Homo sapiens: one gene and its partners. The protein of the gene in region 1 interacts with the protein of each later gene in a biochemical or structural test. Each region holds a gene or a part of one and is shown on either strand. Other genes may lie near its edges. The genes, in order: TRPM1, PALS2 and DLG5.

Region 1 (3,500 bases):
TGATGCCAATTTGATGTTCATCCCCATGTAGGCGATCTACTTTAGTTTCCTGAAAACCTTAAAGAGCTCTTTATTCTTGGAATTCTGAAAACTGTTTATTAATATCCTAAGTTATGTATAACATCAGCTTAGCATATTATATAGAATTAGACAGTTAAGCATAACATTCACATTTCTAAGAAACAAAGTGCCCTCTATTTGCCAGAACCATACTACACAGTGTAACTCGTATAGTCTTTTCTTTATCCTCATGGAGAGCTCTAAAATAGATATAATACTGCCATTAGATTGCTAGGTTATCTGCAGATTAGAATCTCTTCTCAAGATAACCTAGTAGTTAACAGCAGTAAACCCAAGAGCTAGGGTTTGATTGCAATATAATTTTTCCCCCACTATATCTTTTTCAAACCCTTTCGTAGCTTCCTATTTTCTTGTAATTTTCTCCCATGTCATGAAAACATCACTAGTTAAAATAATACACAATTTCAGAGTTATAAGGGAATCTAGAAACAGAGTTCCAGTCCCTCCTTTAATGGTGGGTAGACGACCCAACCAGGGTGCGTGTGCATACTGAGTTATGGGGGGCTCCATTAGGAGACTCTGACTGTGGCAGGGGTTTGTGCAGCCTGGTGGGCTGGTCAGGTGGGGCTCTGGAGTTAGAGCACCTGAGTGTAGGTTCTGATCCCATGCTGACCAGCTAAGATCCTAGGCATGTCACTTCATCTCAAAGCTTCAGATTCCTCATCTATAAGACAATGATTGTCATGGCGTCTCCCTCAGGGGGTTGCTAGAAGGAATAAATGAAATAAGCCACAGAAAGTGCTCAGTTCAGCCTGGCAGAGAGTCACTTGTCACTGTCACCCTGGCCCGCCTCGCAGCACGTTGCACGCACCTTCAGGCCGGGGTTCTTCCGCATCCGCAGTCTTCCCATCCACATATCGGTCAGCAGCATCTGGCTGCAGGTGTGAGCAATGAAGTCCCGGTGTTTGGCTGCCACGGCCAGTTTGAGGCAGGTCGAGTTGCTCCAGTTTTTCAGCTCGTAGGTCAGGAGTTTCATAGCGATCTGCTCGTCATGCTTATAGGACTGGTCTAATAACTCCAAAGCAAGCTGGCCGAAGTCTCTGGGGGGAAAGAGAAGGGACCAGGGTGAAGCCACAGTGGCCGCAAGCTGTTTCTTAGACAGGCATATCCACCAAGGACTTATGGAGCCACGGGACACAGTATCCTTCACTGGAGGGGCTCTGAGGTTCTCTGCAAGCAAGAAGCTCCAGGGATGTGTCCCCAAAGGGGGAAGGCCAGGGACAGTGGCTGGGAGCTCAGTCAGGAGGTGGGCTGACTGCTACTGCTGCAAATGGAGCTGTAGGTTGAGACCACATCTGCCCCTCAGACCCCAGGGACATAGAGACGAGAAGACAAAGTCCCTTCCCTCAAGTTGTGCACAGATCAGGGAGGCAGATAGAAAAGACAGCAAAAGTGACTTCAAATGCAGCACCTGTGGAGTTGGAGGCCACAGTAGCGGGGCTGCTGGTGGTGGTGGTGGCGGGAGGTGGACACTGAAAGGAGTCACAGGAGGGCTGGTGGGTGCCGGCTAGGTTCTTAGTTGATCTGGGTGCTGGTGGTGCCGGCATGTCCCACCTGTGGACTGTCACCAGCTGGACATTTCGGATGTATGCCTTTCTCTGCCCGTGTAACACTTCACCATCACAGTGATTACAGAGAAGCCAACATTCTCAGTGCTATGACAGGGATGAGGCATAGTTGTCATAGGGCCCAGGCCAGAGGGCGTCTAATGACTGATGGGGACAGTGATAGAAGTTGGGGGGCATGGAGAAGGTGGCACAAGCTGAATTTTGAGCATAAAGTTTACTGCCTTCCCCACATGATCCAGATTCAAATATTTGGCAATAACCATAAACGTTCCAAGTTCCTTCAACTTTTTTTTTTTTTGAGATGGAGTCTCACTCTATCACCCAGGCTGGAGTGCAGTGGGGCAATCTCGGCTCACTGCAAGCTCCACTTCCTGGGTCCACGCCTTTCTCCTGCCTCAGCCTCCCGAGTAGCTGGGACTACAGGCGCCCGCCACTACGCCGGGCTAAAATATATTTTAGTAGAGACGGGGTTTCACCATGTTAGCCAGGATGGTCTCGATCTCCTGACCTTGTGATCCGCCCACCTCGGCCTCCCAAAGTGCTGGGATTACAGGCATGAGCCACCGTGCCCGGCCAGGAGAACCAATTTTACCAGAGCCTCACCTGCTGGTTTGATCAGAGCCTGACTGACCCAGGGGAAGCACGCCCAACTCCAGCCCCCTCTAGCCATCCTGTCCCACCTAAGCATGGAGCAAAATCAGAAACACCTGTGAAGGTCACAGTCCAGGTCACAGTCCAGGGCACAGGCTCATTAATGTTGTATTCCTTGTTAGTGTGTGTTTCCCTATGGAAATTAATTTCACCATCTTTGCATTAAAATTGTGTTTCAAGGAAAGGAAAAAAATTGTGTTTCAATTTTGATGCAAAGAGAAGGCAGTACACAAAAACAACGACAGTCCAAAAACACCTCTGAGAGACAGAAAGAAAAATGCTGACATGACAGACGAAGTGATTTGTGAACAAGCTTTAACCACCATTGTCCTTAAGTGAGAAGTACATTGGCCACCCCTCCCTGCAGAGACAAGTACTCAGGATGGTCATCTCTCCTGGCCTTTAAATCCCCGCTAGACACTAACTTGGAATTGTTATCCAAGTCCTGGGAGATGTCATCCACCAGATCACTCTCGGAGGACTCGTGGGCCATGGCCTTGTAGAGCTTGCAGGCCACCAGGGCCTTGGCCATGCTCTCTTCCCCTCGCTGCCAGAGGAACACTGCCATTTTCTGGCGTTTCATCAGCACTGCCCACACCATCAGCTCGTGGAAGGGATACTGGAACCGACTCACGGCAGGGTCGTCCACATCAATGTCGATCTCTTCCTCCTTTTTCTTCTTTTTCTTTTTCTTCCCTTTAGCTGGAGGCTCATCATCCTGAGGGGAGAAACATGGATTTCATGGTTTTGCCATAAAAGTATGCAACAAAGAGTTCCAGAACTCCTGGAGAAAGGGAACCCTTTCTGTCAGAGGTAATAAAGAGACTTCTGAAGTACATCTTACATTTCCACTCCGCATATGAATTCTTTTGAAAAGATGCACACGTTTATTATGATAAGTAAACTATCTAAAACCAAATGAACTGAGAAGGCATACTGTTTGGATAACTTGCACCCCTGGGTCAGCAGTTTTACTTAGAAGCCTTTAACTGAGGCGACGCTGCAAAACTAAAACAAACAAGCAAAACCTCCCCCAAAACTAAACACAAATAACATCATGGAAGAGGGAAGGTCTACAGTTTATTTCCTCAGGGAGGTCTTCAAATGTAGCAAAAATAACACTCGTTTGCCAGACGTAGCTGAACCAGAAATTAACAGGAAACATGCAAAAGGGGCTAGAGAAAATGTTTTAGGTTTCCC
Region 2 (3,351 bases), on another chromosome or scaffold:
AATAGCAGACACAAATCAACCTAAATGCCCATCAATGACAGATTGGATAAAGAAAATATGAGATATATACATACACCATGGAATACCATGCAGCCATAAAAAAGAATGAGATCATGTCTTTTGCAGGAATATGGATGGAGATGGAGGCCATTATCCTTAACAAATTAACACAGGAACAGAAAACCAAATACTGCATGTTCTCACTTCTAAGTGGGAGCTAAATGATAGTATCTTATAAACACAAAGAAGGAAACAACAGACACTGGGGTCTACTGGAGTGGGGGGTGGGAGGAGGGGGAGGAGCAGAAGAGATAACTATTGGGTACCAGGTTCAGTATCTGGATGATGAAATAATATGTACAATAAACCCCTGTGACACGTGTTTACCTATGTAACAAAACCTTCACATGTGCCCCCAAACCTAAAAGTTAAAAAATGCAAACAGTTAAAAAAAATTATCAACGCTAATCAGATATCCTCCATTATTATCTCTAAACCTTAGTTCTACCTATAAATGAAACACTTTTTTCCAATAGTAAATATTTCTTTATATATACAAAAATATTTTACCAGGAGTATATAATCTCACAGATTAGACATTTCAATAATTTTTGTTTTGGACAGCACATGGAAATATGTGAAAAGATTTATAGGGACAGTTTCTGAAAAATCAATACTTAATTGTACCACAGGAAAATTTTATTTATACAACAGCAATAATGTTTCTTTTATACAGAAACTAATAATACAATTACCTGGAAAGCAGTAGCAATTAATTTTTCTTTTTAAACTTCTTAATCAGAAACTTTAAGCAGCTTGTTCAGCTTTGATTTTCAGATTGCTAACAAGCATTCTGCCCTCCATTTTTTTTTTTAAAGATTCTCTTCTACAGTTACTTCAAAAACTAGAGGTTTAAAAAAGCATGCGTCTTGTGTTCAAATAAAAGACTTACCAAAACGAACTGGCGTGGGGGGAAAAGGAAGAATAAAAAATTCCCACAGCAAGGTTTTCACATCAAATACTCACCATAGGCTCCAACAGAGCTCAACATAACATGGAGAAATTGCACTTGTTGCTGAATACTAGTGCTCATTCTTCTACAACAGAGTCCAACATATCACTTCTTTAAAAAAAAATCAGTGTTACTGAAGAGACAGGAGCCAGTCAGCAGTTCTTTTTAAAAGAGAATACAGAGACATAAGAAATATTTTTATTGTATTTCAAATACAGATGTAGCTGAGCTATGCCTGAAATCTGGTTCTACCTGAAAAGATGGAGGCATTTCTCATTTAGACCATGTTTACCAGGACAAGCTTTATGTCTTTAAAGCAATGTTACTTACACTACTGTCCACCTCTCCTATTTAAGAATAAGATGAAAACCACACATTTTAACTGGTAATGACTTCTGGTTTAATGTTGGTAATTTACAGCTGATGAGTTTTTACATCAGATGAGTATGCTTTTTTCCTGTTTTAGTTAATTAGGCTTCCTCCAAGCTCCTAGGCTACTTTGATAGGAGGAGAGCCAAATTTCATATATGACCTGTCATATTTATGTATGTTCCTTCCCCTGGCTTGCTGTTGGCTGAAGTACAATAAAGACATCTATTTCCAATTTTAAGACCTTTTTGGCTTCTGTGGTAGCAACACCACCTATTTCATAAGATTCAAAGACAGTTGCTTTACAAGCAGTAAATCACTCAATCTTCTGATTGGTGGCATTTACCTTAACTATAGATGTGTTCATTCCATTTACACTGGAGATTAGAAAACAGTAAGAGCCAGTAGGAGGGGAAAAAAAGGAAGAGAACTATCCCTTCTGATCGACTTTTGTATGTGGAGATAAGTCAAATTTATCACACCATTGCATTATCAGCCAATGACTGAGAAGCAATTACAAAGTAATAACTAAAGTGGATTAATATCTGGATTTTGAGGTTCACAAACTAAGACCTCACTGTGAATGTTTCTTTCTATAAAGAAATAGATGCCTTTTTAAATTAATGGTATGGGTAAAACAGTAGGGCTGCAGTGATTTCAGGTATGCAGTGATTTCAGGTATAAGGATAAAGTAGGACAGTTTTCGGGGGCAAAGATCAGAGTCTTCTGGTGTAACCGAGTACTGGATTGCTTGCTTACATTTTGTTTGATTTGTGAGTGGTCTGGTTGGCAGCAAGGATTTGCTAAGGGTTTGGATTTAGTATGGGATTATAAGATAAAAGGGACTTTCTGATTAGGACTAAGAGAGCAGAACAGACCTTCCACCAGCTGAAACTGTATCTTTGGGGCTATTTTAAAACTGGAAGAATTCCTGAAAAGTATTCACCATTCACTACATTACTTCAGAAACAGGTACACTTTAAAATAACTAAAAGAGAACAGATAAAGTAGCCTAATAAGGATTTTTCAGTTCACCATATCACAGCTACCACATCAGAGTTACAAATTACAAATCAGAATTTAAGGCGAAGACAAATATTAACTTAGCCTTACTTAACAAGTAGAATAGTAATGATAAAGGGAAATATAAATTTCATCGAAGATCACACAGTCAGAAGTCAGAATTAGGATCTTGGCCAGTACCCTGTCTTTACTTTTATCACTAGAGAATATTTTTTAAAAAGTACTGCAGTGTATTGCCAAAGTGGTGTGAACCATGCTTACTTTAGAAATGAGATATCATCATTCTTTCACTGTTTAGTATATTAAGGACTCATGTTCGAATCTCTGCATTTTTCAAAAACTATTCCAAGAACACAGAAGCTAGCATGATGAATTATGGGAAATATTTTAAAAAGAATATAAATTGCAAAACGTTAGAACAAAAATGCAATTTAAAAATAACCTTACCTTAAAAAAATTATAGAACTGTCATCTTCCTCAGGTATACAATATATGCTTGCATAAAAACTGACAAGATGCTCAATTATTAGTCAAATGTATTCTTAAATTTTGTGAGTATTCATTTGTACTATATACAATAATCCCATTATTTAAAAGAATGAATTTCTCCCAAAAATTCCAAATACATTACAGATGTTATTACATGAATTCTCACAGCAAACCTCTTGAAATAAGACAAGGGCAGGTATCATAATCTCAGCCTGAATCATATTAAAGATTCATTCAAAAGTTTAAATAAGAATTTCCAAAGGGGTTTCCATCCAGAACCCTGCCCTTTTTCCCTAAGAAAATTAAATTTATTATAATAATGACTACTTTCTGAGTTTCTCATATATTTTTCAGAAAGATTATCAGCTTCAAGGTGGAACCAGAGCGTTTTAAAACAATCTAAAAAAAGTTTCAGAATGTCAAAGAAATGGGAGTAATTAAAAATTTTAGAATGCTAG
Region 3 (3,730 bases), on another chromosome or scaffold:
ATGGAGCCTGCTGCTGCAGCTGGCACTGTGCTTGTGTTCTCCTGAGCCTTCTGCCTCCTGGTCCCTGTGCCTGCTCTGCAGTCACTCCTTGTTCTGCATATGCGTACAGATCCCTCCAGGCCAAGCCTCTCATGGACCCTTCCTCCCAAGCCTGCAGTCATCTTGTGCTCTGCCCTCCCCATCATCTCCATACTCATCCTCTTGCCCTGCTCTTTCTGGAGACTCTCATCCCACTTCCCTCCTGGGCCTGCCCAAGTGGTCTTTTCACCCTGTCATCCAGCCACAGTGTCTACTGAAGCCCGCCGCTCCTGGAATTGCCAGGCAGCTCTTGCGTGCTCTCTTGCTGTTCATGTGTTGCTCTGTTGTGACTCTAGTTAAAGTGTGTGCTTTTTAATGGCAGGAACTCTGTGTTCTATTCTTTATTATGTTTCTGAGATTCCAGCACAGTGACTTATACCAGGGAGACGCCAGGAAGATCTTGCTGGGTTTTAGACTGTGTCTCCCTGCAAGGACTTTATTCATTTGGTGCAAGGGGAGGTTTACTGCATGTATCAACTAGGATATTGGTTTGACTGCTTTAACTGAAACCAAATAACAGTGGCTTAAGCATAATGGGCAGTTTATTTCTCTGTCATGTACAAGTCTGAGCTGTGGTTGATGTGGGAGAGGCATTGCGTTCTGAGGATCATCCAGGACCCAGGTCCCTTCCATCTTGTGCCTCTGCCATTTCTTAAGGGTTATCCTCAACTGCATGGCCAGAGCTGGCTCACAGCACTCACCTGTTCTAGCCGTGCAGATTGGGGAGGCCTCACCTGTCACTGGGCAGGTCTGGGTTACACTGACCACACCTTCCTGGGGAGTGGGAGCTTTACCTGCCAAACCCCAGAGGCTGCCTTGCCAGAGAGCAGAGGAGAATGGAGATGGGGCAGGGGAAGCAGGCGTCGACCCACGAGGAAAAATCAGAGCAGAAGGAAGCTCTGGGATGAGTGGTTGAGACCAGCTGCCTCTGGTGTTCACAGAGGGCATGGGGGGTGCTCATGCTGGACTCCAGGGGTGACGATGCCCGGTTGTGCCTGGGACACGAGATTTTCAGTGCTGAAGCTGGGGGAGTCCCAGGCAAACCAGAGTGGGCGAGGTCAGGGAGCGGGGTTCCCCAGCCCCACTCAGGTCCTCCACTCCAAGCTGGGTCCGTGACGCTGCTGCTCTCTCTCCCTCAGATTCGGTGAGCCTGGCCTATCAGCGGGTCCAGAAGGTGGACTGCACCGCTCTGAGGCCTGTCCTGATTCTGGGGCCTTTGCTGGACGTGGTGAAGGAGATGCTGGTGAATGAGGCTCCTGGCAAGTTCTGCAGATGTCCCCTTGGTAAGGGGCACGGGGCACCCTCTGTGCCTACTGGGCTCTTTGTCTCTATGTCCCTGTCCACCTGCCTGCCCAGCTGTGCACAGTGGGTGGCAGTACCGGGGGGCAGATTTCACAGTGTTCCAGAAGCCTGCTGACATGGGTCAGATTCATGCATGGCAGGACTGGGTTACTGACAGCTGCTGAGCAGTGTTCTTCCCCTGCTCCCTCTGCTGGGGCTCAGCAGGGCCTGGGGCTCCCTGATTCCTGTGTCTGTGCATTGCAGAGGTGATGAAGGCCTCCCAGCAGGCCATTGAGCGGGGTGTCAAAGATTGCCTGTTTGTCGACTATAAGCGGAGAAGCGGCCATTTCGATGTGACCACTGTGGCGTCAATAAAGGAGATCACAGAAAAGGTACCCAGGGCTTCAGTCTGAGGATTAGGCATCCAGTATTAGACCTCCTGTGCACAGGTCTAGGCCCCTGGTCCGTGATCCTCTGCCCCAGCGGCTCAGACCTTCAGTGAGCCCACCGTGTTGTGTTAGTCTGAGTTCACCTGTGCCTGGGCTTGCCCTCATGGCTGCTGTGTGTTTCTGCAAGCACATCCCTTGGTGGGGATGGAGGAGTTCCCCTGTGTATGTGCCGCCCCATCTTCCTCTCTGGCAGGTGCGGGGGGTCTCATCTCTGATGAGAGTATTGAGCTCTGCGGAAAGGCCTCTCGCAGGGCATTCCGGAACGGGGTCCCCAAATGCATGTGCCGAACAATTTCACATGCACCTTCTGGGGACAGGAACGTGCCTTCCCTCAGGGTCCCTGCCCCTAAAAGGGCTATGACTCTCGGTGCCTTCGAACATCCTAGGCAGCACGAGGGCGGGGACGTCTGTGGGGAGTGCTGGTGGGGCAAACACTCGGAGTCCAAGGACACAGCCGCTCCTTGGGCTCCATTTCTCCAGGCTGCTCAGCTCGCTCGCTGGGCTTTGCTTCCCTTCTCTGTTAGATGAAGGTGTTGGCTTCTCACTGCTGAAAGTGGGCAAACTCTACTTGGGGGAATGCCCCAGTGGAGCATCTGGGGGTCGGGAGTGCACGGGCCTGCACTCCACCTGGATGCCTGGGACGACAGACATGACAGACATATTTCAGTCTCAGCCACACAAAGGCTCACCAGACTCTGGCTCTTCATTCGCTCAGTCTGGCAAAAATAAGGCTTCAGAGGCCAGGGTGGGGCAGGGCTTTCAGAAGGTCCCTGTATCTGGGCAAAGGCGGGAAAGGAAGTTTGGAGTTGGGCTGGCCAGCACCCCTAGCCCCCTAAGCCCTGGCTCCCAGCCTTGGCCTTCCTCACAGCAAGTGGGGTTTGTTGGGAGTTTCGTGGGTATGGTTTCCCCACGGTGTACTGTGTGGCTTTACTGCCTTGTTTGTGGGTAGAGCCCTGTGAGGTGAGGTGGGTCCTGCTGGTGGCAGGACAGGGGGCTGGCTGCCCCTCACTGCCCGCCAGGGCTCACTCTGCACCCCCCACCCCAGAACCGACACTGCCTCCTGGACATTGCTCCGCACGCTATTGAGCGGCTCCACCACATGCACATCTACCCCATTGTCATCTTCATCCACTACAAGAGCGCCAAGCACATCAAGTAGGTAACTGGCCCCCTGGGCTCCGCTGGGGCCTTGTCACAGGTGGGGCTGGGAGCCCAAGTAGGGAGCAGGGTGTGTTGGGGTGGGGGGTTGAGGAATGAGAGATGGGCCTATGGGTCTTGAAATAGGCAGTACGTGTAGAAAATGACCCTTCCCTGTCGGCCCTGTCCCCTACTCAGAGGTGGTGTCAGCCAAGCGCAGCCCCTTCCTCGCGCCCCTCCGCCATTTGGGTGCTGCCACTGTTTTTTGGGCATGGCCAGCTTGGTCTGCACAGCTCCCCTCTCCTGCCCCAGCCCCCTTTCCTCGCTACGTGCTGCTTAGGAGCAGGGGAGCCAGTGGCCTGGGCACAGTCCCACTCAGCCCCGAGCTGGCTCATGACTCAGGAGCCGTTGCCTTCGCTGAGCTTCGGCTCCTGTGCTGGTTGGGCCAAGGGCTCACCAAGGCCCTGCTCCATTTTGCCTTTCTGTGCTGCTGAGCTTCTGGGACCTGCGCTAGGGGCTGCTGGTGCATCTGTTCCAAGTGTGTGTGCTGGGGGGCCCTCCTTCCCCCATCTGCCCAGAGCTCCCCCGACAGCCTACAGGCTGTTGCTGTGCTTTATGTGGGGAGCACATGGGGCCTCCCTCCACAGCCTACCCCTGCCTTGATGGGGCCCCTGTTAGCCTGGACAGAGGAAGGAAAGAGGGCCTGGAGGAGGCTCAGTGCTCAGCCTGGTGTCTGGCTGTCCCCACAGGGAGCAGAGAGACCCCATCTACCTGAGGGACAAGGT

The links.
Region 2: the proteins of TRPM1 (region 1) and PALS2 interact in a test that uses a peptide from one of them, tested with the Homo sapiens proteins (one large-scale study listed by IntAct).
Region 3: the proteins of TRPM1 (region 1) and DLG5 interact in a test that uses a peptide from one of them, tested with the Homo sapiens proteins (one large-scale study listed by IntAct).

Annotation. Positions count from the first base shown.
Region 1 is NC_000015.10:31,039,226-31,042,725, forward strand, and holds part of TRPM1 (transient receptor potential cation channel subfamily M member 1), read right to left. Parts: intron 3,019-3,500; coding exon 2,726-3,018; intron 1,122-2,725; coding exon 893-1,121; intron 1-892.
Region 2 is NC_000007.14:24,691,524-24,694,874, reverse strand, and holds the end of PALS2 (protein PALS2), read right to left. Parts: 3' UTR 682-3,351; downstream 1-681.
Region 3 is NC_000010.11:77,794,082-77,797,811, reverse strand, and holds part of DLG5 (disks large homolog 5), read left to right. Parts: intron 1-1,217; coding exon 1,218-1,361; intron 1,362-1,623; coding exon 1,624-1,751; intron 1,752-2,853; coding exon 2,854-2,963; intron 2,964-3,694; coding exon 3,695-3,730. UniProt on the Homo sapiens protein: Acts as a regulator of the Hippo signaling pathway.